Linked DNA regions of Homo sapiens. The protein of the gene in region 1 interacts with the protein of each later gene in a pairwise test. Each region holds a gene or a part of one and is shown on either strand. Other genes may lie near its edges.

Evidence for each region.
Region 2: the proteins of HSD17B11 (region 1) and UNC50 interact in binary tests that used the Homo sapiens proteins (3 or more experiments, as listed by UniProt).
Region 3: the proteins of HSD17B11 (region 1) and DHRSX interact in binary tests that used the Homo sapiens proteins (3 or more experiments, as listed by UniProt).
Region 4: the proteins of HSD17B11 (region 1) and TMEM65 interact in binary tests that used the Homo sapiens proteins (3 or more experiments, as listed by UniProt).
Region 5: the proteins of HSD17B11 (region 1) and ORMDL1 interact in binary tests that used the Homo sapiens proteins (3 or more experiments, as listed by UniProt).
Region 6: the proteins of HSD17B11 (region 1) and EHHADH interact in binary tests that used the Homo sapiens proteins (3 or more experiments, as listed by UniProt).
Region 7: the proteins of HSD17B11 (region 1) and RASGRP3 interact in binary tests that used the Homo sapiens proteins (3 or more experiments, as listed by UniProt).

Annotation. Positions count from the first base shown.
Region 1 is NC_000004.12:87,336,015-87,339,188, forward strand, and holds the end of HSD17B11 (estradiol 17-beta-dehydrogenase 11 precursor), read right to left. Parts: intron 1,353-3,174; coding exon 1,262-1,352; 3' UTR 501-1,261; downstream 1-500. UniProt on the Homo sapiens protein: Can convert androstan-3-alpha,17-beta-diol (3-alpha-diol) to androsterone in vitro, suggesting that it may participate in androgen metabolism during steroidogenesis.
Region 2 is NC_000002.12:98,611,589-98,615,088, forward strand, and holds part of UNC50 (protein unc-50 homolog), read left to right. Parts: intron 1-3,500. UniProt on the Homo sapiens protein: Involved in the cell surface expression of neuronal nicotinic receptors. Binds RNA.
Region 3 is NC_000023.11:2,238,977-2,242,476, forward strand, and holds part of DHRSX (polyprenol dehydrogenase), read right to left. Parts: intron 1-3,500. UniProt on the Homo sapiens protein: Oxidoreductase that plays a key role in early steps of protein N-linked glycosylation by mediating two non-consecutive steps in dolichol biosynthesis.
Region 4 is NC_000008.11:124,320,702-124,324,201, forward strand, and holds part of TMEM65 (transmembrane protein 65), read right to left. Parts: intron 2,675-3,500; coding exon 2,620-2,674; intron 1,447-2,619; coding exon 1,404-1,446; intron 1-1,403. UniProt on the Homo sapiens protein: Essential for maintaining proper cardiac intercalated disk (ICD) structure and function as well as cardiac conduction velocity in the heart.
Region 5 is NC_000002.12:189,777,840-189,781,339, forward strand, and holds part of ORMDL1 (ORM1-like protein 1), read right to left. Parts: intron 1-3,500. UniProt on the Homo sapiens protein: Plays an essential role in the homeostatic regulation of sphingolipid de novo biosynthesis by modulating the activity of the serine palmitoyltransferase (SPT) in response to ceramide levels.
Region 6 is NC_000003.12:185,247,550-185,251,049, forward strand, and holds part of EHHADH (peroxisomal bifunctional enzyme), read right to left. Parts: intron 969-3,500; coding exon 865-968; intron 1-864. UniProt on the Homo sapiens protein: Peroxisomal trifunctional enzyme possessing 2-enoyl-CoA hydratase, 3-hydroxyacyl-CoA dehydrogenase, and delta 3, delta 2-enoyl-CoA isomerase activities. Catalyzes two of the four reactions of the long chain fatty acids peroxisomal beta-oxidation pathway.
Region 7 is NC_000002.12:33,556,649-33,560,148, reverse strand, and holds part of RASGRP3 (ras guanyl-releasing protein 3), read right to left. Parts: intron 1,939-3,500; coding exon 1,813-1,938; intron 1,478-1,812; coding exon 1,119-1,477; intron 1-1,118. UniProt on the Homo sapiens protein: Guanine nucleotide exchange factor (GEF) for Ras and Rap1.

The DNA.
Region 1 (3,174 bases):
TGGGTTCAAGTGATTCTCCTGCCTCAGCCTCTCAAGTAGCTGGGACTACAGGCACCCGCCACCACACCCAGCTAATGTTTGTGGATTTTTAGTAGAAATGGGGTTTCACCATGTTGGCCAGGATGCTACTGCTCCAAAGAAGTGCTTCTCAAATTTTAATATGCATACAAATCATCCGCCCGCCTTGGCCTCTCAAAGTGCTGGGACTATAGGCATGAGCCACTGCGCCTGGCCTACGCCCAGCTAATTTTTGTATTTTTAGTAGAGATGGAGTTTCACCATGTTGGCCAGGCTGGTCTCAAACTCCTGACCTTGTGATCCACCCACCTCGACCTCTCAAAGTGCTGGGATTGCAGGCGTGAGCCACTGTGACCAGCCGTGTTTGATATAGTCTTGAAAATATTTTTCTTTCGTAGAAGAAACCTAACAAACCTACTAAATTTTTAAATTTATAGATCTGATCTTATAGTCCCATCTCAATGAGCCTCACATCCAAGAAATTTCCAGTTTTTAAAAAAAGATTGCACAATTTATTTTCCTTTAATTTGAAGGTTGTCATGTTCTGTTTAAGACAAAAAGATGGAAACACCAAAAGTTTAAGTGTGATCCATTTATTATTGCTGCCATTTGTGGGTACATTCTCTCAATTCTCCTTAAATCCCAGTGATGCTTTTATACTTGCAACACGTGTATCCACCTCTAGCTTCCCTGTGCAGAAATGTTTGGCATTGGAATGTGAGGTATCTCTCAGGAAACAGAGTGGCAATGGGTAGGATGAAACCTACCCATTGAGAGTTCATGATATTCATTGTGAAATACCACTAGATATAGTCCTTCATTTTATTTAGAGAGCTTGAAGTTTCTGATTTTATGTAGAACAGAAAAAGAAACACAAATTATACAAAATTTAAGTGCAATCAAAAATAAAAATATATGTTAAATAAACGGTTATGGTACAAATTTTGCAAAGCCTTCAGGTGAGCCACAAATAATCTTGGAAATTATTTTAATAAAGTCATTTTGGTTCTTTTTCTTCATTTTCCTTAAAGTCACCTCTAAAGGTATTTCTCTGTTTATATCATATGTAATCAGCTTTTGGCTAAAGAACAAGTGGTAGTAAATGAAGACTGCCAAAGCCTCAAAAATGATATTGAAGAAATGGGGATAATTAGAAAAAACAGAAGTTCAAACATTAAAATTCTGGCACTATTAGATGACATCAACCTAAACCTGGTAAATCAGTTTTCAGAAAACTAGGTGCTTATTGCGCTTTCATTTTATATCCAATAACTGCATCAAACTTAACACTGATTTTTCGTTTTAAAACTGCCAGGAAACGCTCAGGAAGGATCCTAAAAGAAAGATATATGCAAATAATTAGAAAATTAATATTAAGTGCATTTGTAGAATACCCTCTTTAGAAATACTTTTAAGTTATCATGTATAGTCATGTTCATGTTAAATAAGATTAAGCATCTTAAATCTGAGTCACTACTATATATTCTTTCCCATTAAATCTATTTCCTTTTCAAATGGAAAAGAAGGCTTAGCCTTCTTTACAGTAGAATAACCTGAAGTAGTCAGTTTTTGAAACAAAAGATCTGAGGGAGGAGGTGTAAGAACTGAAGAGTTGAGATACTAAAGACTTTACAAAAAGAAACCCGACATTAAAAAGGAAATGAGAATAGGAACTAATTTTGTACTTTATAATGCAGAATATTATTAAAATGTTCCACTAAGAGACTGCGGAAGTAGAACTGCTAAATAAAAATGCAGACAACGCTTTGGTTTTGAGCATAATGCTGAACCAATTATTTCACCTTTCAGTTTAAATTCCTCACGTGTAAATGGAAAAATTAACATCTATCCCTCAGTGTTCTTTTGTGGAATCAATGTGTTACTATATTAAATAAAATGTCTTGGCCTGGCGTGGTGGCTCACGCCTGTAATCCCAGCACTTTGGGAGGCAGAGGCGGGTGGATCACGAGGTCAGGAGACCGAGATCATCCTGGCTAACACGGTGAAACCCTGTCTCTACTAAAAATACAAAAAATTAGCCAGGCATGGTGGCGGGTGCCTATAGTCCCAGCTATTCAGGAGGCTAAGGCAGAAGAATTGCTTGAACCTGGGAGGTGGAGGTTGCAGTGAGCCCAGATCATGCCATTGCGCTCCAGCCTGGGCGACAGAGCGAGACTCCGTCCCCCACAGCACCCCCCCAAAAAATGTCTTGAACAGTGACGGACACTAGCAGGTCTCATCTCTTTTCTCCAGACACTACACTTAGAATATTTAGGGAGTTGTCACATTCCAGTGGGTCTGGGAGAAAACAAAACAGAATATGTAAATCAACATAATAATATACAGAAATCTGCCTAGATGGCATGAAAAGAGGGTTTGGAAATATGACACCAATGTGACCTCATAACAAGAATTAGGGCAATGATAATAATAATAGTAGTAGTTATAATAACAGTGGCATATAACATTTATTGAGTACTTACAATGTACTGAGTACTTTTTATTTTATTTATTTATTTTTGAGGTAGGGTCTTGCTCTGTTGCTCAAGATGGAGTGCAGTGGCATGATCATGGCTCACTGCAGCCTCAACTTTCTGAGCTCAAGCAATTCTCCCACTTCAGCCTCCTGAGTAGCTGGTACTACAGGTGTGTTCCAACACGCCTGGCTAATGTTTTTGATTTCTAGTAGAGACAAGGTCTTATTATGTTGCCCAGGCTTGTCTTGAACTCTTGACCTCAAGCAATCCTCCTGCCTCAGCCTCTCAAAGTGCTGGGATTACAGGCGTGAGCCACCGTGCCCAGCCCTGAGTACTTTAAGAGCATTATTTTCTTTATTCGTCTCAGCCCTATAAAGTCCAATTGTTTTCTCCATGTTACAGATAAAGAAACTGAACTTCAGATAAGTTAAAAAACTAATCCATGTTCATGTTGCAAGCAAGTCACACAAACACAGCTTCATTCAACTCCAGAGCACAAACTTTGAGTCTTTATGTTTAAAGGTCTAGAAACTAGAATTAATTTATTCAATCAACAAACATTTTGGTGCCTCTAATGTGTCAGTCACTCTTCAAAATGCAGAGCATACAGTGATGAAAACTAGGCAAAATTCCTTCTTCTATAGGTTTATATTCTAAGGGGCTGCGATCACTGAGTGCA
Region 2 (3,500 bases), on another chromosome or scaffold:
ATAAAATAGGAGGCAAGTTTGCCTGACACAGTTACCAGCTTGACTTTTCCCTTTGGCTTAGTGATTTTGGGGTCCCGAGATTTATTTTCTGCATACTAACAAAATGCCTGGTTTTGCAAAAATATTACAGATTTAGCCAGTTCTGCTTAAGTTGTCTGGATGATAGCATGGTTTTCTGCATTTGTCAATAGAGACCACTTCTTGATATTCATTGTGTTTAAATCCATTTAGATCTAAAGGGTTATTTTGTGGAGTCTTACTTTGAATCTTTGCATTAAATGAAGTATACTTGAAAAAGAAGGATTTTTTTTTTAAACTTCTCATGCCTTCCTACTGAGAATAAAATTCTCTCTCTTTCTCTCATACACACACACCCTCCGCCCCCCCCGCCCCCCCACCGCCACACACACACACGGGCTTTATCAGAAGGGTTCTCAGTCTGACTTTGGTTGATTTAGCAACAGCAGTGTACTGAGGATAAATCTGGTGTTTGGTAAAGTCCTCCTGTGTGGTTGGCATGCTGGATGAAGGGCAGGGGATGTGGCTAGCGATCTCAGTAGAGGACCAGTGGTTGGGTAGACATGGTGGTCATTGTGGAGAACATTTTAGTTGCAGAGAGACCTGGGTTCAAATGCCAACTTAGTTATCTGTGAAACTCTTAGTCCCAGTCTCTTCTTTTACAAAATCTAGTTAATTACCTATTCTGTCCAATTTTTGAGATAATTATGTTATGAAAATTACCTGACACAGTTAAGTGTTCAATATTTGGTAGTTACTAATATTTTAAGCAAAACTCTGCAACTATAACTTCTGATACCAGCCTTTTTTTTTTTTTCTTTGAGACGAAGTCCCACTCTGTCACCCAGGCTGGAGTGCAATGGTGTGATCTCAGCTCACTGCAACCTCCGCCTCCCGGGTTCAAGCGAATCTCCTGCCTCAGCCTTCTGAGTAGCTGGGATTACAGGCACACACCACCACACTTGGCTAATTTTCATACTTTTAGTAGAGACAGGGTTTTGCCATTTGGCCAGGCTGGTCTCAAACTCCTGACCTCAGGTGATCCTCCCGCCTCAGCCTCCCAAAGTGCTGGGATTACAGGCGTGAGCCACCGCGCCCAGCCAATACCACCCTTTTACAGGCATAGTTCAGATATGCTAGTTCCATTCCAGATACTGCAGTAAAGCAAATATCACAATAAACTGAGTCACACAGATGTGTTGGTTCCCAGTGCATATTAAAATCATATTTACACTGTACTGTAGTCTTTTAAGTGTACAATAGCACTATGGCTCTAAAAAACAATGTACAGACTAATTTAAAATGCTTTATTGCTTAAAAATGCTGACACAGAGACATGAAGTGGGCATATGCTGCTGGAAAAATGGCACAGGCAGACTTGCTGGACACAGTTGCCACAAACCTTCAATACGTAAAAATTTAAAAACTACAGTTTCTGTGAAGCGCAGTACAGTGCAGTGTGGTAAAATGACATATGCCTGTATTTTCCTTTGTAACTTCTGACTAGTACAGCAGAGCTTTTGTATGTGCTAGTTAGCCAATAAATGCTGTCCACTGTTAATATAAAATTCTAAAATCTGGCCTAGAATTAATACTAATGTAAGTCACGTATTCATTACCAAGAAATTCATGAAAAACAAATGGTGTGTTTTAAAATTTCAATAAATAAGACTTTCAAAGGAATAGTTTCATTCATAACAAGCATTCTGCCCTGAATGCAGTAATTCTGGAGGCCACTGTCTTAGTCTGTTCTCAATGCTGCTATAAAGAAATATCTGAGACTGGGTAATTTATAAAGGAAAAAGGTTTAATTGACTCACAGTTCTGCATTGCTAGGTAGGCCTCAGGAAACTTATAATCATGGCAGAAGGCAAAGGAGAAGCAGGCACCTTCCTCACAGGGTGGCGGGATGGAGTGAGTACAAGTGGGGGAAATGCCAAATGCTTATAAAACCATCAGATCTTGTGAGACTCACTGACTATCACGAGAACAGCATGGGGGAAATTACGTCCATCTGGCCCCACCCTTGACACGTGGGGATTCTGGGGATTGCTGTTCAAGATGAGATTTTGGGGACACAGCCAAACAATATCAGGCACAGAAGGGGACCAAATCAGCCTGGAGTTTAGCACATTTCATGTGAGTCTGTATCATAGTTTGAATTAAATAGAAAGGGATTCAGTGTATTTTTGAGAACCTATGTTGTGTGAGGAACTAGAAAGAGAAATGACTACATGTAATGATGACCATCACAGAGGAGCTACAGAAGCCAGCATAAGGTGGTGGTTTGTGGAGATGGGGAATAGTTGACTCCTGGTGCTGGGAATTGCAAGTGCAATGGCATAGAGGTGTGAACAGCACACTAGGTCTGGGAGCATAGGGTGACACCGAGTCACTGGGGAAGAGATGTGACTAGAGAAATTGGCCTTCATGCCATTCAGGAAAAAAATTGGACTTTATCTCATAGACTGCATGTGTGGGTTGGGGGCAAAAGGAGGTGGGGAGCTTTGAGGCTTTAAAGTAAGGAAATAATGTCAAACTCACACTATCTTTTCCATGGCAGTGGAGGAGGCAAAAGTTGGAGTAGTGAGTGGGCAAGGCTGGATACACTTGCAGAGGTCTGCGTAGGAGTAGAGGAGGCCCAGATAGTATGGTGGTGATAGGAATAGAGAGGAGAGATGGATTCGAGAGCTTCCTGAGATAACAAGGTATGAGGGGGGATCAGGAAGAGGGAGTGGGTGGGAGGCTCCTTTGGGATGACCTGTAAGATTTTGGCTTAGATGACTGAGGAAGCAGCAGATGCAGATGAAGCAGCCCTTGCTGGCCTGTTGAGTTCAGGGAGCTTCCTGAAGAGTGAAAAGAAGGTCAGTAGACACTGAGGTTGATGACTCTAGACCTAGAGGCAAGAGTCTGGGCCATGATGAGCCTCTGACTGGCGTTAATATGGAGCTGGGAGGTGAAAACCACAGTGCCTTGGAGTGCTCTCGGAAGGCACATCTGTCTTTCAGAGGAAAGACTCTCACTGAGGCCAGAAGCTTGAAAAGCGCCCATTTGGGATAAGCGGGAGAATAGGGGCAGCAGAGAACGTCTACAGAAAGGGCGCTCTTGGGGAGCGAGCTACATACTGATTCCATAAAATTTGAATGGCACACATTCTTGGCTAAAAAGGAAACTGTCTTGGTAAGCTCTAGTTTGTTCAGTATTGTTTTGGCATTTTCAGATAACGAAATGCAGGGACTGTTAACATTAGTATTGTACCTCTGTTTATTTTCCATTTTTATCCCCAGTGACGGAATAGCGTATTCTTAATTGTACCCTTGAGATGAAATGAAATAATACATTAAAAAATACATTGAATTTCCAATATATGTTTATAATACAAGTTTTGTTCTTTGAAGATCTTACTTTTCTGTTACTTGGATATTTTACTTTTTATTCATCATTGAACTGAAAAACTAGTAGGCCATGTTGTAGAACAGTGA
Region 3 (3,500 bases), on another chromosome or scaffold:
AAAGACAGCATCAAGCTACTGCAGCTGTATAGCCTTTTCTTTAAAATTCTTACATTATTTTAATTTCATTTCCAGGCTAATGCATATTCTTCTGCTCTATAATTTTAAAGTTTCCACAATGTTGTCTCTTATATAAAGGCAGTATCACTCGAGCAATGCCCCGTGGTTATTTTTAATCCAAATTTGCAGATGATGATCAAAGGATTAAAGAATGATTCATGTGGCTAAAGTTGCAGTTTGCTTGTTAAATATTTAGAAAGAAATAATGTCAAGGCCAGCCATGGTGGCTCATGCCTGTCATCCCAGCACTTTGGGAGGCAGAGGTGGGAGAATCACTTGAGGCCAGGATTTCAAGGTTGCAGCCAGTGATTGTGTCATAATTCCAGCGCACAAGACCAACCTGGGCGAACAGCAAGATGCCGTTTCTACAAAAAAAAAAAAAAATGCACAGCAGCCAGGGTGACAGAGCAAGACCTGGTCTCTAAAAAATTTAAAAGAGGCCGGGCGTGGTGGCTCACGCCTGTAATCCCAACACTTTGAGAGGCCGAGGCAGGTGGATCACGAGGTCAGGAGATCAAGACCATCCTGGCCAACATGGTGAAACCCCGTCTCTACTAAAAAAAAATAAAAAATAAAAAAAAAATTAGCCAGACGTGGTGGCGGGCACCTGTGGTCCCATTTACTCGGGAGGCTGAGGCAGGAGAACGGCATGAACCTGGGAGGCGGAGCTTGCAGTGAGCTGAGATCGCGCCAACGCACTCCAGCCTGGGCAACAGAGCAAGACTCAGTCTCAAAAAAAATAAATAAATTAAATAAAATAAAAAAACAGCAAATGCTCTCCTTGGATACTGAAGTCACTCTCTGAGGGATTCATGGGGGTTTTATAAGGATGAAATGTATCCTAGTGTTGGTGTATTGCTAGCGAATACTTAGTGCTTAATAAAATAACTAATATTTTGAAATTCCTTTGCTTGAGGAATTAGAGATGTGAAGAACAACAGATCAGAAAGCAAACTGCAAAATAAGGGATGTACAGCTGGGCGCGGTGGCTCACGCCTGTAATCCCATCACTTAGGAAGGCCGAGGTGGGCGGATCACCCGAAGTCAGGAGTTCGAGACCAGCCTGGGCAACATAATGAAACCCCGTCCCTACTAAAAACACAACACTTAGCCAGGCTTGATGGCAGGTGCCTGCAGTCCCAGCTACTCAGGAGGCTGAGGCAGGAGAATCACTTGAACCCAGGAGGCGGAGGTTGCAGTGAGCTGAGATCGCGCCAGTGCACTGCAGCCTGGTGACAGAGCGAGACTCTATCTCAAAAAAAAAAAGAAAAAGAAAAAGAAAAAAAGAAATTCCTTTGCTTGAGGAATGAGAGATTCGAAGAACAACTGATAAGAAAGCAAACTGCAAAATAAGGGAAGTAATTAATCCCCTCAAAAAGTCCACATTGGGGGCGGGCAGCTCATATCATGAGAGACTTTCAGACGAAATCAAGAGCAATGCCAGGAGTCCAACAGGGAGAAAAGAGAATTTGTAACCAAGCTCATTAATTCCAAAGCTTGATGAAACAGACAATTACCTAAAGGGAAAAGCTGTCTAAACTGACTCAGAAAGAGGTGGGAAACTTCAACAAGCAGTAGACGCCCAAGGAATTTTGAAAGCTGAGTTAGAATCGCTCTTCCGAAAATTCCTCAACCCATGCGGTTTTGAAGGTGAATCGTGGCGGTGTTTCAAAAGCAGACACTTTTAAAAATGCTAATTAGACGATTCTGCAATGTAAAGGGAGAAATAGAAAAGCTTCTCAAGGTTCTTTCTTTGTTTTGTAAACAAATTATTAAAACTTTAGTATCCCGACTTGAGATAGATAGGAAAGAAAGTAAATCTATAGCTCCCAGATACATATCACTTCAAAAGACCTCAAGGAGGACAGGCACGGTGGCTCACTACTGTATCCCAGCACTTCGGGAGACCGAGGCGGGCAGATTACTTGAGGTAGGTCAGGAGTTCGAGACCAGCTTGGCCAACATGGTGAAACCCTGTCTTTACTAAAAATACAAAAACTAGCCGGGCATGGTGGCGCACACCTGCAATCCCAGCTACTCAGGAGGCTGAGGCAGGAGAATCACTTGAACCCGGGAGGCAGAGGCTGCAGCGAGCCGAGATCACACCACGGCACTCCAGCCTGGTGATAGAGCTAGACTCCATCTCAAACAAACAAACAAAAAAACCCAAGGGAATGGCTGGGGCATGAAATCTTGCAGTGCTTAAGAAGTTAATGCATCACGACAACGAAGATCATTGCAGAAATGTGGGAGCTTTCAGCTGCTGGGTCTTAAAAACCAACACCCCAAAGTACGGTGCTTTGTCCTGCTGAACTGAAGAAGCCTCAAGATCTCTCTAACTTCCCCCTCCTGCTTCCTCTGTGTCTCCCGATGCACAGGATGAAGTTGTTCTCTGAAGTTTCCTGAAGTCTGGACATGTCAAAGAAGGAAAAATGACCAGTGTCCCCTTCCCTGAGTTTCTGAACCCACATCGCGGAGGAAAGACTGATGTCTGTCAACAGCCCTGCAGAGACTCCTCATAAACCACTGTCTGTTCTGAGGGTTCCACAGCCTCTGTCCCTGCAGAGACTCGTCATAAACCATTATCTGAGGCCAGGCGCAGTGGCTCACACCTATCATCCCAGCACTTTGGGAGCCCGAGGCGGGTGGATCACCTGAGGTCCAGAGTTCGTGACCAGCCTGGTCAGCGTGATGAAACCCCGTCTCTACTAAAAATACAAAATTAGCCAGGCGTGGTGTCACATGCCTGTAATCCCAGCTACTCGGGAAGCTGAGGCAGGAGAATCGCTTGAACCCAGGAGGCAGAGGTTGCACTGGGCAGAGGTCCCGCCACTGCACTCCACTCTGGGCAACACAGAACGAAACTCCGTCTCAAAAAAAACAAGCAAACAAACAACAATAACAAAAAACATTATCTGTTTTCGGGCCACTGTACATTGTTCAAACCCATTGACTTCTCTTTAAAATCATTTACTATTTGGAATCCTATATTCACCCCCAATTCCCCACTCCCCTTCCGCTAAGAAGAAGAGGACACAAGCGTCTGTACCCCTTTGTGTAATGGGGCAATTCCTCTGACATTCTCCTCCATGGATGAGAATACATTTGCCTGTCATTTCCTTTATTCATGTTTCAAAAAGGGCAATTGTATTTTGTGCGTTGATTTTTCAGCAAACCTTCAAATGGCAAAGGGGGATGTTTTTCCCTTGGCCCCTACCACAGCATCCCCAAACGGTCTCCAGCTCCTAAGAAGATTCATTTATGGGCACTACCTAGCTACACAGCGTCACCCACCGAGCTCGCACACAACCAAGGCTTTGGGGTGAGAATGTACAAATACATCACGGAATCCAAGCCCCCAACACCGCACACGCAGCCTGGAAGTGGTTGTGTCAGAGCTGTGTGAACCAGCGTGACTCCATCTTGAATAGGGGCTGGGT
Region 4 (3,500 bases), on another chromosome or scaffold:
ATTCTAAGTTGCCATCATTTATTGGATACATCCTTACTTTATGAACTGTAAGAAAGAAAAAATATTGCTAATTAAACTATGTATACTACCAACAATAAGATGGATCCTGATATCAGATACGTTAAAATGCATCTGAGAATGCCTAAAATGTGGTATTTGTTATTGAATGATACCCCCCAAAAGAGAGAAGAGAAATAGTTTTTAAATACAAAGACTTCCAGAAAAATCTTCATCTCTAAACAAAAACAATTGTTTTATGATGCAATATATAGCTAAATGGCTTTAAAATCTCTTAGATCATTTGGTTCTATTAAATATATCAGAAAGCTATACAATGACTGTAATATTCTCATTATTTACTTTAATGTTGGAAACTGGGAATAGAATGTTTAAGAGATGATATCATGATACATTTATGCCAGGAATTCGAAGAATATAAAATTCTTGCCATGGTCCTAAAACAAAGAAACTTTGTTTTTAACTGTGGCTTTGGCCCCAAACTCCAGTGCAGAAGTCTAATATAAAAGGTTAAGGTTAGATCACTTAAAAAGCTGCTTTGCCTAGATTATAGGGCTAAGTAAACTTCTAAGAAAAAATTCAAATCTGAAATTGTAACACTCAAATGAGTCAAGGAAAGAAGAGACAAAATCAAAGACAGAGCAAGACAGAGCATATTTATCATAATAATGTCCACTTAGTCTAATTTATACTCCCCCAGGCTTCCCCAAGCTCAGGAAGCAACTCAGGCCATCTGCTACTTGGAACAAGAATGTAAAGAGAGAGAGAAAGCTGGCCTTTTCTAAATAGATGTCCTTAGTTTGTTTCATTATTCCTGCCACATAAAGTAAAGAGAGCAAAAAACAGCCAAACCCATATATGCTTTGGCCATTATTTCCTTTGAAAGTTCCCCCCTCTAGAAAACATGTCTAGTCAGTATCCTCAAATTCGAGCCATATCCCTTCTCTTTGGGTTTTCTGGGAGTAGGGTGAGGTGGAATAATGAGAGAGGTTCTTCCTTTTACTCCTGTCTTACCCTTGGAGATGTCTATAAAATACATATAAATACTTCAGTAAACACAAATTCCATTTTGCTTACATTATGGTAAATTTAGAATAAACTTTTGCATACATCAGAACCACTCATGAAAATTACTAAACACAACTGCCAGGGCTCCCTCTCCAGAGACACTAATAATGTATAACTGGGATATCACCCAGGCATCTATATTTGATGGATACCAAAGATTTAGTACTATTAGTTTAGAAAAAGTAAATTTGAAATTTTAATTCTAGAAAACAAAGAAAAATGAAATATTCTTTTGTTATGCTTCTCAATTAAAGAAGAGTGGGGAACAGAAAGACAGCAAGTACAGAATATACAAATGAATAAGTGAATGAACCTACCCAAGTCCAGCTAGATCTGACACAAGATTTCCCAAAGCAGCAGCTAAAAATTTGAAAAATAAATAATTGTTACATAAAAGAATAATAATTATATCACTATGTAATCAATAAAGCACTGATCTTGGAAGAGTTCTCATATTTCTCAAACAACAGCAACCATATCCAAAGTAACTCATTGGACAGCTCTTACTCTCAAGGTTTTGAAATAGAACACAATTTTGAAATTATGCTATTCTACCTCCATTAAGTAGTAGGTTTTTTTGTTATGGCAGCCAATTTCCATTTTGGTTTCAATATTAATTGTAGAATATTTTGTAGTATCTTTCATATAATATTTAAAGGAATTGGTAAAGTTGCATGTACAGCTATGAAATTCAAGAAAGTCAAGGAGAAAAATATGTTTCTTTCATTAACTCATTTACCTAATGCTTTCTACAATAAATACAACATAGAACTCTTCCCAAATTTTACCTCTGTGAAGAATAGAGTGGTAAATGGGACAGAGAAGACAGATGTTTAATCCTGTATTTCCTTCTTTGATTTTTCTACCCAACTCAAGAAAAAAAAAATTCTACCCAACTCAAAAATAAATAAATAAAAAATAAATAATAGGCTGGGCGTGGTGGCTCACATCTGTAATCCTAGCACTTTGGGAGGCCGAGGCGGGCAGATCACGAGGTCAGGCATTCAAGACCATCCTGGCCAACATGGTGAAACCCCGTCTCTACTAAAAATACAAAAATTAGCCAGGAATGATGGCAGGCGCCAGTAGTCCCAGCTACTCATGAGGCTGAGATAGGAGAATCCCTTGAACCTGGAGGTGGAGGTTGCAGTGAGCTGAGATTGCACCACTGAACTGCAGCCTGGGTGACAGAGTGAGACCCCGTCTCTAAATAAATAAATAAATAAATAAATAAATAAAAGAGACCAAGGGTAGAAATGTTTAGGGGTAACACTGAATTGCCAGAAAATCTTGTCTTAACGAAATCAATATAGCAGAGTATTGTTATCCAATAACTAATAATATAAAGTACCTAAAATTTTCAGAAAAAGTGCTACATGTACAAAACTAAGAATCAGAAGAATAGGATGAAGAAAATTAACAGATATCTCAATGAGTAAACTCATTCAAATAAATTACCCTCCTCTAAACTTAATCTACTGAAATGTTTTATAAGTGTACAATGAAATAATAACATTTACTACTGTTAAATACCTGCCATAGTTGAAATTCCCAAAATAATTCCAATAGACATTTCAATATGGGTTCCCTGAAATATGATAAAAAATTAATCTTAAAAATTAAAGCTGAAGTGACTATAAAAGAATAGCAAAGCATTAATAAAAACAGATACAAGTTAAATCAACATGTTAGTGCTGCAAAATTACATACATCATATATGCACATATAATATAGTAATTCATTAAATTATTAAATATATGCATTCATACAGAAATAACATCAATAACATTTTATTCATTCAAATTAGGCTTCTAAAAATAAAATTAGCAACACATGTAGAAATATAGTTCATCATTAAAAATCTAGAATTTCTATTTTTCTACCACAGAGAAAAATGCTTTAAAGCTCTTTGAAAACAAGACCGACTCACATTGATTTTAAATTCTGAACTATACATCTATACTATTGTTATTTACTCTATCAAAAGATTAAAAGGAGACTAAACCAGTTTCTAGGGAAATTGGGGTTTATAAAATTATCCTTATAACACTTAGCTCTTGAACCATTAAGTAGTGAAACTATACATTCAATTTATAAGCAGCAACGGCATTTAGTACAATAGATCTACACTCAAAACAAAGCCCCATCGTATCGCCACTGAATTTAATGACAGAGTTTAAGACTTTCTATATGTATATCATCATTCCTCTGAAGAAAAGAGGGGCTCATATTTTACTTTCATTTTAAAGAGGAGGAACTGAAGTGAAGACAATTAAACTATTCTAACAGAATAAAGAAGAAATCCTAGGATCTATTGTGCTAATTCAATTCTAATCCCTGAGCAATGCTGCCATTAGAAGACTTAATTTTCAAGAGTTCTCTTGAATACTGATGCTTGAACATTTCTAAAAAAT
Region 5 (3,500 bases), on another chromosome or scaffold:
TTTCTAACCGGGTGTAACAATTAGGTCCATTTTCTCATTTTTAAAGGCATTCAATATGTACTTCAGATTTTTAATTGGTTTAATGTGGCTATATTCAAAGGAAACTTAAATTTGGAGTCATGTAATTGCAACTCCGATGGCTAATTAAGTTTTTAGTGTGGTGAACTAATAACAAATAAATCAGAAGTTTGCTTTTCTATACAATGTCAATTACCAATCATTTGTCCATGGTCAACCAACTTGAAACACGGTTAGGGGGTGGTGGTGGTACAGGGATGGCATCTAAACCGTGGTGGCTCACACTCAGCACTTTGGGAGGCCGAGGCGGGCAGATCACCTGAGGTTGGGAGTTCGAGACCAGCCTGACCAACATGGTGAAACCCTGTCTGTACTAAAAATACAAAAATTAGCCAGGCATGGTGGTGCACACCTGTAATCCCAGCGACTCAGGAGGCTGAGGCAGGAGAATCGCTTGAACCCAGGAGGGGGAGGTTGCAGTGAGCCAAGATCGTGCCACTGTACTCCAGCCTGGGTGACAGAGTGAAACTCCGTCTCAAAAAAAAAGGACTAACTTATTCGGCAAACATTTAAATACGTTCTTAGCGATACAAAAATTAAAACATAAAGAGATAAACTGCTAATTATAAAACAATGACAAACACATGATAAAAGAATGCAGCATGGGAGTTGTGTAGATTCCTGGAGGGACAGTTTTGCTGTAGGAAATCAGGCAGAGCAGGAAGGAGGGAGAGGTATTAAAATAGTAGAGACTGGGCCGGGCATGGTAGCTCACACCTGTAATCCCAGCATTTTGGAAGGCCAAGGCAGGTGGATCACCTGAGGTCAGGAGTTCAAGTCCAGCCCGGCCAACATGTTGAAACCCCATCTGTACTAAAAATACAAAAATTAGCCAGGTGTAGTGGCACATGCCTGTAGTCCCATCTGTTCAGGACGCTGAGGCAGGAGAATTGCTTGAACCTGGGAGGTGCAGGTTGCAGTGAGCCAAGATTGCGCCACTGCACTCCAGCCTGGATGACACAGAGAGACTCCATCTCAAAAAAAATAAAAGTAGACCCTGAGTACTATGGCTCACTCATGCTTTGGGAGGCTGAGACAGGAGGATCACTTGAGGTCAGGAGTTTGAGACTAGACTGGGTAACACAGCAAGACCCCCATCTCAATCAGTCAATCAGCTGAGCATGGTGGCACACACCTATAGTCCTAGCTACTTGGAAGGCTGAGGCAGGAAGATCACTTGAGACCAGGAGTTCGAGGCTGCAGTGAGCTATGATCATGCCACTGCACTCCAGCCTGGGTAACAGAGTGAGACCCTGTCTCTGTAAGAAAAACAAAATGGCTGGGCATGCTGGCTCATGCCTGTAATCCCAGCACTTTTGGAGGATGGTGCAGAAGGACTGCTTGAGGCCAGGAGTTCAAGACCAGCCTGGGCAACATAGTGAGAGCCTATCACTATTAAAATAAAAACAAATTAGCCGGGTGTGGTGGCATGTGCCTGCAGTCCTCAAATTTATTGGGAAGCTAAGGTGGGAGGAGCTATGATCACGCCAGTCTCTTAAAAACAAAAGAGTACTTGGTCCAGGTGAAAAGAAAATATAGTAGAAAAGCTTAAGCCAAAACAATAAAATGAGAGCAAGATGATTTTCTTTATTGCTAGTGTATAGCCTCTATTTAGAGATGGTTGAGACAAGGTGAAGTCTCCTTGTTTCTGCACTGTTATCAACTGGTCTTATATGTCACACAAGAAACTTGGATTTTACCATGACTGCAATGGATGATCACTGAATGACTTAGAGTATGACTTGAGCAAACATGCATTTTTAAAACATCACTCTGCCAAGCTGGAATGGAGAAGGGTAGAGAAGCATCAAGAAGACTATTTGATTTATCTGAGTAATTTACTTGAGGAAAAAATGAGGGTATGGGGATCAAGTTGAGAGTAAAGCAGTAGAAGACAGTGCTCTGAGCAAATGGATATGGAATATAAAGGAAAAGAAGTTATCCTAAGACTTAGGTGACCTTGTATTCTTGTTTGCATACGATGGTTCTGATTATACCTAATCTCTTGTAGTAGTTATTACCAAAGCTCCATTTTACTCTCTAAACAGCCTGTTTGGACTATACATTACAGGTTGAGTATTCCTTATCCACAATGCTTTGGAGCAGAAGTGTTTCAGATTTTGGATTGTTTTGGATTTTGGAATATCGGCATATACATAATGAGATATCTTGGGGACAGGGCCCAAGTCTAAACATGAAATTCATTTATGTTTCATATACATCATACACACACAGCCTAAAGATAATTTTATATAGTATCTTTAATAATTTTGTGCATGAAATAAAGTTTTGATTGCATTTTAATTGCAACCTGTCAGGAAGTCAGGTATGGAATTTTCCGCTTGTGGCACAACACTGGTGCTAAAAAAGTTTCTAATTTTAGAACATTTTCTATTTTGGGTTTCTGATTAGGGATGCTCAACCTGTATATTAATTGCTTTACCATTAACATTCAGCTGTCTGGCTTGGCCTTTAGATAAGATTAGTAGTGAAGCCAGAGGATCAGATTGTGGGTGGTAAGGGAGTAATCAGGAATAAGATAAGTTCCATTTATACTTGTTTGGTTTAAGGTGCAAAGTAATCTGGTGATAAAAATAAATAGGAGCATCCTTATTCTACAGGTAGAAACTGAAAATATGGGTAGATGAAGTAACCTAGGTAGAATACATAGCATAAGAAGAGATGAAGAAAAGAACCTTGGGAATAGAAATATTTAAGAGAGGAAAAGAGAAGGAAGACCCCATAAGAAGAAAGAGAAGGTCAGAAATATATGCCGGTGAAAGTGATCCTATAGAAGCCAAAGGAAGTTTCAACAAAAGTGAGATGATTAGTGTAAAATATTTCAGAGAAGTCACTATTTAAAAGAAAACATCGTTTGCTCTTACAAAGTCTATCACATAAAATGGACTAAATGGACACATATTTATCATGTCTACCAGCACATCATTCTTATCCTCCTCCAGTCAACTTCAAATATACTCCAGAAGATAGAAAATAAATATTATTGTTATTATTTGAGGCAGGGTCTCACTGTCACCCAGGCTGGAGTGCAGTGGCACGATCTTGGCTCACTGCAACCTCCACCTCCCAGGCTCAAGCGATTCTCCTACCTCAGCCTCCCGAATAGCTGGGACTATAGATGTGCTGCCACCATGCCAGGCTAAGGTTTTGTATTTTTTGTAGAGACAGAATTTCAGGCTTCACCATGTTGCCCAGGCTGGTCTTGAAATCCTGAGCTCAAGTGATCTGTCCACCTCAGCCTCCCAAAGCACTGGGATTACAGGCATGAGCCACCGTGACTGGCCAAAATAAATATTAATTTTTAAAAATCAATTTCTCCTGTTTTCCTGTCTTAATGCTTTAAGTTCATTTTAAAAAATATCTTTCAACAAATGTACTGCTAAACTGGATTCAATTAAAAT
Region 6 (3,500 bases), on another chromosome or scaffold:
TTATTATTATTTAATAAATAACCTACATGGTACTGGCATATAACAGGCAAGATAAATGGTAATATTATAATGATTCACATTTTTATATTTATTTATTGCCATGATTCTAACATCTGTGTCTTTTCAGACTACCATTAACACATATTAAATTTCTCTGGCTACAGTAAGGTTGAATAGGCCCCCATATCCATGTGACTTTTGTCAAAGGGTATAATGTATGAATATTAAGGAAAAGACGCCATATATGCCATTGAATAAATCACCATTTCAGCATACTTTTGCCATATTTTGTCAATAATTTTGCATCTTCACACAATAACCCAATAAAGCAGTGCCATGGTCACTGAGATGGGTGACTATCGGAAGAAAAATGAATTCTATTATAAGACTCTGTGTGAATTAAACAATAACATTTATTGACCATCTTCTTTGTGTAGGTACTGTAGTAGAGGCTTTCAGATATGTTATCTCGCTTAATGTCACAAAAACCCCTTAAAATAGATATTATTGTTCCCACTTTATAGATAGAGAAATTGAGGTTCAGGAAGTTAAAGAGATTTGCCCAAGCCCACATATGGTGGAGATACATGCAATGCAGGTATATATCAGCAGGTGTATAACAGCCATCAAGTCTGGAACTAAATATACTCTAAAAGCCCAATCCACAATAAAAGAGACTAAGCCCTTCTCTGGGTCTCTCTTGTAATTCCTGTCCCTTTCTCCACAGTGTTACTCATTCTCACTCAAGTCTGCCATATCCATTACCTACACTAAGTTATTACCAACAAGCACAGCTAATGCAGTATTGGTCTCAGTCTGTGGCTGGATTCCAGAGATGGTGGGAGAGGGTTAGACTTGAGTTACCTGCAGAAAATTTGCCCTCTGCTCCACAAATCACAATGGCTTTTATTGTATGGTCTATTACAGCTTTCTGTAGTCCTTCTTTTATGTCACGGAGTAAAGTCGTACTAAAAGAAAACAAAATACATGAAGTAAATCAGTCAGAATTAAATTCCTACCATTCAGAGTGTTTTCCTTTCCTAAAAATGAAAAATTAAACACACACATAATGGATAAAAACTGTAGATACTTCTCAATAAAGCTTCCAACAAATAATATGTCTACTATGACTATTAAATTTCTTCTACAAATAATATATATGCCTATGATTAATTAAGCACTGACCAGATTAAATTAATCCACTTTTTAAAAATGTAATTTTCCTGCACTGTGCTTTCACTTTGACCGCTTAAAATTGACACCAACCAATTTAAAAATATTATTACATGTCTTCTATATATTGTACAAGGAGTTATCCAATACTTGTACATAATTTATCATGTAAGGCACACTAAGATATCTGAGTGCTGTAATAAAGGTACAAAGAAAAAGTGATGTTGAAGTTCAGAGAAGGGTGAAATTACTTTCAGTTTTTCATATTGTTAAAATATAAGAAAATTAAATGAGAAACAGTCTAGGAGCTGTGGCGGGGGCTGTGAGTTACCTCAAATATCCATTCCTCTCCATCGTCTTCATAGTATTAAAACACTTGGTTTTTACTTGAATATATGTGATATGGTTTGGCTCTTTTTTTTTTGAAATGGAGTCTTGCTCTGTCACCCAGGCTGGAGTGCAGTGGCGCGATCTGGGCTCACTGCAAGCTCTGCCTCCCGGGTTCACGCCATTCTCCTGACTCAGCCTCCTGAGTAGCTGGGACTACAGGCGCCCGCCACCACGTCCGGCTAATTTTTTGTATTTTTAGTAGAGACGGGGTTTCACCGTGTTAACCAGGATGTTCTCGATCTCTTGAGCTCGTGATCCACCCACCTCGGCCTCCCAAAGTGCTGGGATTACAGGTGTGAGCCACCGCGCCCAGCCTGGTTTGGCTCTTTATCCCCACCAAAACTTCATTTCAAACTGTGATCCCCACGTCAGGGAGGGACCTAGCGGGAGTTGATTGGATCATGCCAGTGGTTTCCCCCTGCTGCTGTTCTGTGAGGGAATTCTCAGGAGATCTAGTGGTTTATAAGTTGCAGTTTCCCCTGCACTCATGCCTCTCTCCTGCCACCTTGTGAAGAAGGTACTTGCTTCTCCTTTGCCTTCCACCATGATTGTAAGTTTCCCCAGGCTTCCCCAGCCATGTGGAACTGTGATCAATTAAGCCTCCTTCCTTTATAAATTACCCAGTCTCGGATATGTCTTTATAGCAGTGTGAAAATGGACTAACACAAAAATATGGTTGCCCAAAATAAAGACTATATTTTCCAGCCTGCTTTACAGTAAGGTCTGCACAAGGAACTAAGTTCTAGCCAATGGGATGGAAGCATATTTGGTATATGCAACTTTGGGGAAGAGTTCTTAAAGATTTGGGTATGCTTTTCCCTTTTTCTTTCCTCCCTATTCCTGGCACCAGTGATGGTTAGATCAGGAGCAGCCACCTTGGATCAGGAGGTAGAAGCTATGTATTGAGGATGGTAGAGCAAGAGATAGACAGAGAAAATAATTGAGGCCCCTGTTGATTGTGGAGCAGCTGTATCATTCCAGGGCACTGCTGTGAGAGAAATTAGCTTTTTATTGTCTAATTCACTATTATCTTCACTATTCTGTCAGTGACAGCCAAGCGTAATCTTAACTAAGATAAGATATAAAGGCAAGATAGTGGAAAGATAGGGCATGTAGCAGATTTTGCCAAGTTTTAATATATGAGGAAGTCATCTGCAGAAGAGATAGCTAAAACCAAGACTGAATGAGTCTACCAAAGGAAAAGAGAGCTGAGGGCAGATCCTCTGGATATATCTTCATTTAAGAAGTGGGACAAGCTCAGCAGAGTGATTCAGCAAGTGAGCTCAAAGTCACAAAGACCAAGAGAGAAAATTTGTGAAGAAGGAGGGGATTAATAAGTACCAAGCAATAAGAGAATCTAGGGCAAGTGGTGAGGAACTGCTTAAAAGGAAAAACCACAGAACCAGATTCCAATCAGTTTTGCCTTGGAATTCCAAGTATTCTGAGTAAAATCTCTGTTCTTTAGTACACAGGGTTAAAAATAAATTTTAAAACAAAACAAACAACAACAAACTTCTGTAAAGGCCATATTGTTAAGACCAACAACTATTAGTTAAAACCCCAAGAAATAAAAAGGATACTTGCCCTTATTTATAATGATTCCCTTACACCTAATTACTTTTCACCTCTTAACCTAGATGAAATCAGACAAAACCTCTTGGCTTCAGCTGGTTAATTAGAAGCCAAATCTGACCATGAAAAGCAAATTCAGAACCATTATATAACATCAAAAAGTCCAAAAGGCACACATTTCCTTCTGAATAAACAATGCTTACAAAACTAGCCAAAATTAGCTCAATCAGTGCCACTGAGGAGAAGAAACCAGCTTTTCCCATTTCAACCTATCTTCCTTTTTTATGTTCATAATTTTGCAAATATCAAAAACAGGAAAAAAATGAAAATAGCTATAACAGATACGCACTTTACTAGATTCAAGC
Region 7 (3,500 bases), on another chromosome or scaffold:
ACTTTGTGAGTATACTAAAAGCATACTGAAAGTATACTAAATTGCATACTTTTAAATGGGTCAGTTTCATGGCATATGAATTACATCTCAAAGCTGTTTTTAAAAGTGGATGTTATAGAAACAAAAAAAGTGTTTCAGCAGAAACTTACAATAAACCTTGTATGACCAGAGATAATGGGTGGCCTCCTTATGCACTGCCTTCAGTGAGGAAGGAACTAGGGGAATTTCTGGCTAAAGGTCACTGGAGTTTTTCTCATCATGGGAAATGTATGGAGACGTGTGTTTAGGTCTCCTGAAGAGTGGAATGTGGAGGACCACCCATAAGACTAAAGAGCACTGGCTTGATCCAGTAGGATCTCTGCCTAACCCAATATTCTGTTTATGAGAACAATTCGACAGGGTGGCAATGGCTGTCCTCCATGACATTGCTTTAAATGTTAGGAATATCATGCCAATTTTCTCAAATCCTTTCTCTTAATACACTATAGACTGTTAACTAATAAATTTATCTAACTCCATCTTGAATCAATTTCTGTGTCAGCATACTCTAACAAATTCCATCTGCATCCTACTTTGCTTTGCATGATTTTGCTCATGCGGAGGCAGAGCCTGGTTTAGAGATCCTCAAGGGCCTCGTATCTCTGATTCTCACCACCCCCTTTTCCATGATGCTGTCAAAAGCTTCTTTTGAGCAGAATGAAAAGTTTCCAATTCTCCTTTATCTAAAAGTCTTTTGCTTCTACTGCCTTTCTTGAGTCTGGGCCCTGGTTCTAGCTTGGAAAACCAAGCTGATCTGTATCGTGTACTGGTATTTTGGATATATAGTCATGGGTTTCTGGGGCATCATTTCAGTACGCACACATGACAGCCTTCAATAGGTTTCAGAACTTGATCTCGTTCAATTTTTTTAAATCATGATACTGAGATCCATAAAGAAGAAACATATGTCCAGGGTCACATAGCTAGGCAGTGGCAAGACTAAAAGTGATACATGTCTTCATTCCCAACCATTCTGCTTTCAGAACTACCAGGCTGCCCCCCAGACCCTCTGTAACGCTCATCTCAGCACTTTCAGCCTCCTTCTTCTGGTTTTCTTTGTGGGTTGACCTAGCACTTACCTCACCATCCTGTCTGGTCTCTTCTCCTTCATCCTGGTCAAGTTCAAACTCCGTGCCCCGGTCTACAACATCCACACCAGCATGCACCCTGGGCTTCTCATTTTCCCATTTGGCAAAGCCTTTGTCCTTTGCTGCTTTGTCATGGAACTTGGATTTCATTTTAGGGAAGGTGTGGGACCCCGAGTCCCCCCAGCCAGCCTCTGACCAGACAGGTTCAGTCTGGGTGGCCTGGCTGGTGGTGGCCCTCTGTAGCCTCACAGAGATCTTGCGAGAAGAGCCTGTAACCAGTGTGATGGCTCTGCTGTCTAAATCCCTGTGTCCAGCAGTGACTCCAGGGAACTCAAACACCTCATCCTGCGCTGGAAGTGAAAAAGGGTGGTGATTATTTGACATCTGACTGCTTGACAGCAAAGCATCAAGGTTAGTGCAAACAGCACGAGTCTGGCATGCAACATTCTAGAGGAACCGACAAGGGACAGAACTCAATTAGCCGCAGGCAAGTTACATATTCCTGAGACTAGAAAGCAGAGAGAAGCAAGGATGATTCAAGGGTTTAGCTACTGCTGCTCACCCTAAAGAAGGCCTTAGCGTTTAGAGTGACTGACCGGGTTTAGACCCAGAACCTAAATGAGGTCCAAGTGTGAGGAGGCAAGCAGAAAGAGACCATGGCAGCAAAGAAAGCAGAGGGCATTACCTGGGGGCAGCGAGGGGCTTCCAGGCAGTGACCCATGACCACTGCTCAAGGAGGGCGCCCGGGCAAATCTCCTGCAGGCCAGAACCAGGAGGTCTTTGCACTGTTTGTGACAATTGGCTCCACAGTCTGAAAAATTCCAAGGGTGTCGCAGATGATTAGTGTGTCTGATGTTGATTCAGTTTCCAGGGTGGCACTTGATTTGTCAGCCCTCCCCTCCCCCACCCCAGTTTCTGTGTTGAATTTCAGAGTTGAGCTCAGGCCCATGGGGTGTGTCTAGGATCTGGAAAGAGGCCATTGGTCTGCACTTGCCTTCCTGAGGTTCCGAAAATTCTCTTAGATTTGCTCAGCTTGGTTCTGTATGCAATTGAGGACCTAATGAGCAATTGTGCCTAGGGAGTAAATAGAGTCCAGCCTGAGAGGTCAGTTGCCTTTGCCCAAAACTAAATGCAAATCAAATGGGGTTGAGAGTCTTTCCCAGGCTTAGACGGAATCCCCACAAAGAGAGCCTATGCCAGCATTAGGGCAAGAAGCCTCAGCTTCTAGTCTCTCCCAGGCCAACTGCCTCTGATCATTTACTGTGAGGTGTTCCTCCACTCAGCACTTGTCTGGATTTTTTTTTTTTTTTTCGAGATGGAGTCTCGCTCTATTGCCCAGGCTGGAGTGCAGTGGCGGGATCTCGGCTCACTGCAAGCTCCGCCTCCCGGGTTCACACCATTCTCCTGCCTCAGCCTCCCGAGTAGCTGGGACTACAGGTGCCCGCCACCACACCTGGCTAATTTTTTGTATTTTTTAGTAGAGACGGGGTTTCACCATGTTAGCCAGGATGGTCTCGATCTCCTGACCTCGTGATCCACCCACCTCAGCCTCCCAAAGTGCTGGGATTACAGGCGTGAGCCACCGTGCCCGGCCTTGTCTGGATTTTTTTACTCTTCTTCATTTTCCAAAACCTTTCAGGGCCAGTGATTATATCTTCTGCTTCCAACAGAACACAAGATGGGCATATGCTCAGTAAATATGTTCTATATTTGCTTATGGCTTTGAAACAGCGTGCAGCAGAGTCTGTGAATTGCCCATTAGGATGTTTTAGATAAGACAGTAGAATGTTAATTACTACTTGGGGTAGAAAAATGTGGCCACTTCAGATGGTGGTTCACAATTATTTCCTATGATGAGGGTCCTGCACTTCACTGAGAATCATTGAATAGAGATGATCATTTCTCTCCTACCATCAAGGAGGACCTTTCTAACTATTTCCAGTACCCATTTTCCCCTAAGTGACCTTGTTTCAAATAGTCTTAATGATGTATTCAATCTATTTCAATTCATTTTTTTTTTCACTTTATGTGCCATTAAGAAAATACAAGAGATAATCCAAAGGTGTAATAGATTTTCATCTTTATAAAATTGCGTGTGTGTGTGTGTGTGTGTGTGTGTGTGTGTGTGTGTATTTTAGGGTATGAGGATAGAAACCAGAATAAAACTAATGACTCACTGCTGGGCAATAAGATCTTGCAGTATCTTTGCTGCTTGAAAGTAAAAATCTAAGTTAGACCAAGGCAAGTGATAGAGAAGCACTAATGGGAAGGTCCCTCTGAGCACTAAACAGTGGCTTCCATTGAGATTTGGGAAGCTTTTTGTTCATGCAAAATGAGGACGAAATACTGGAAAACGACTGGAGAAAAAAGGCA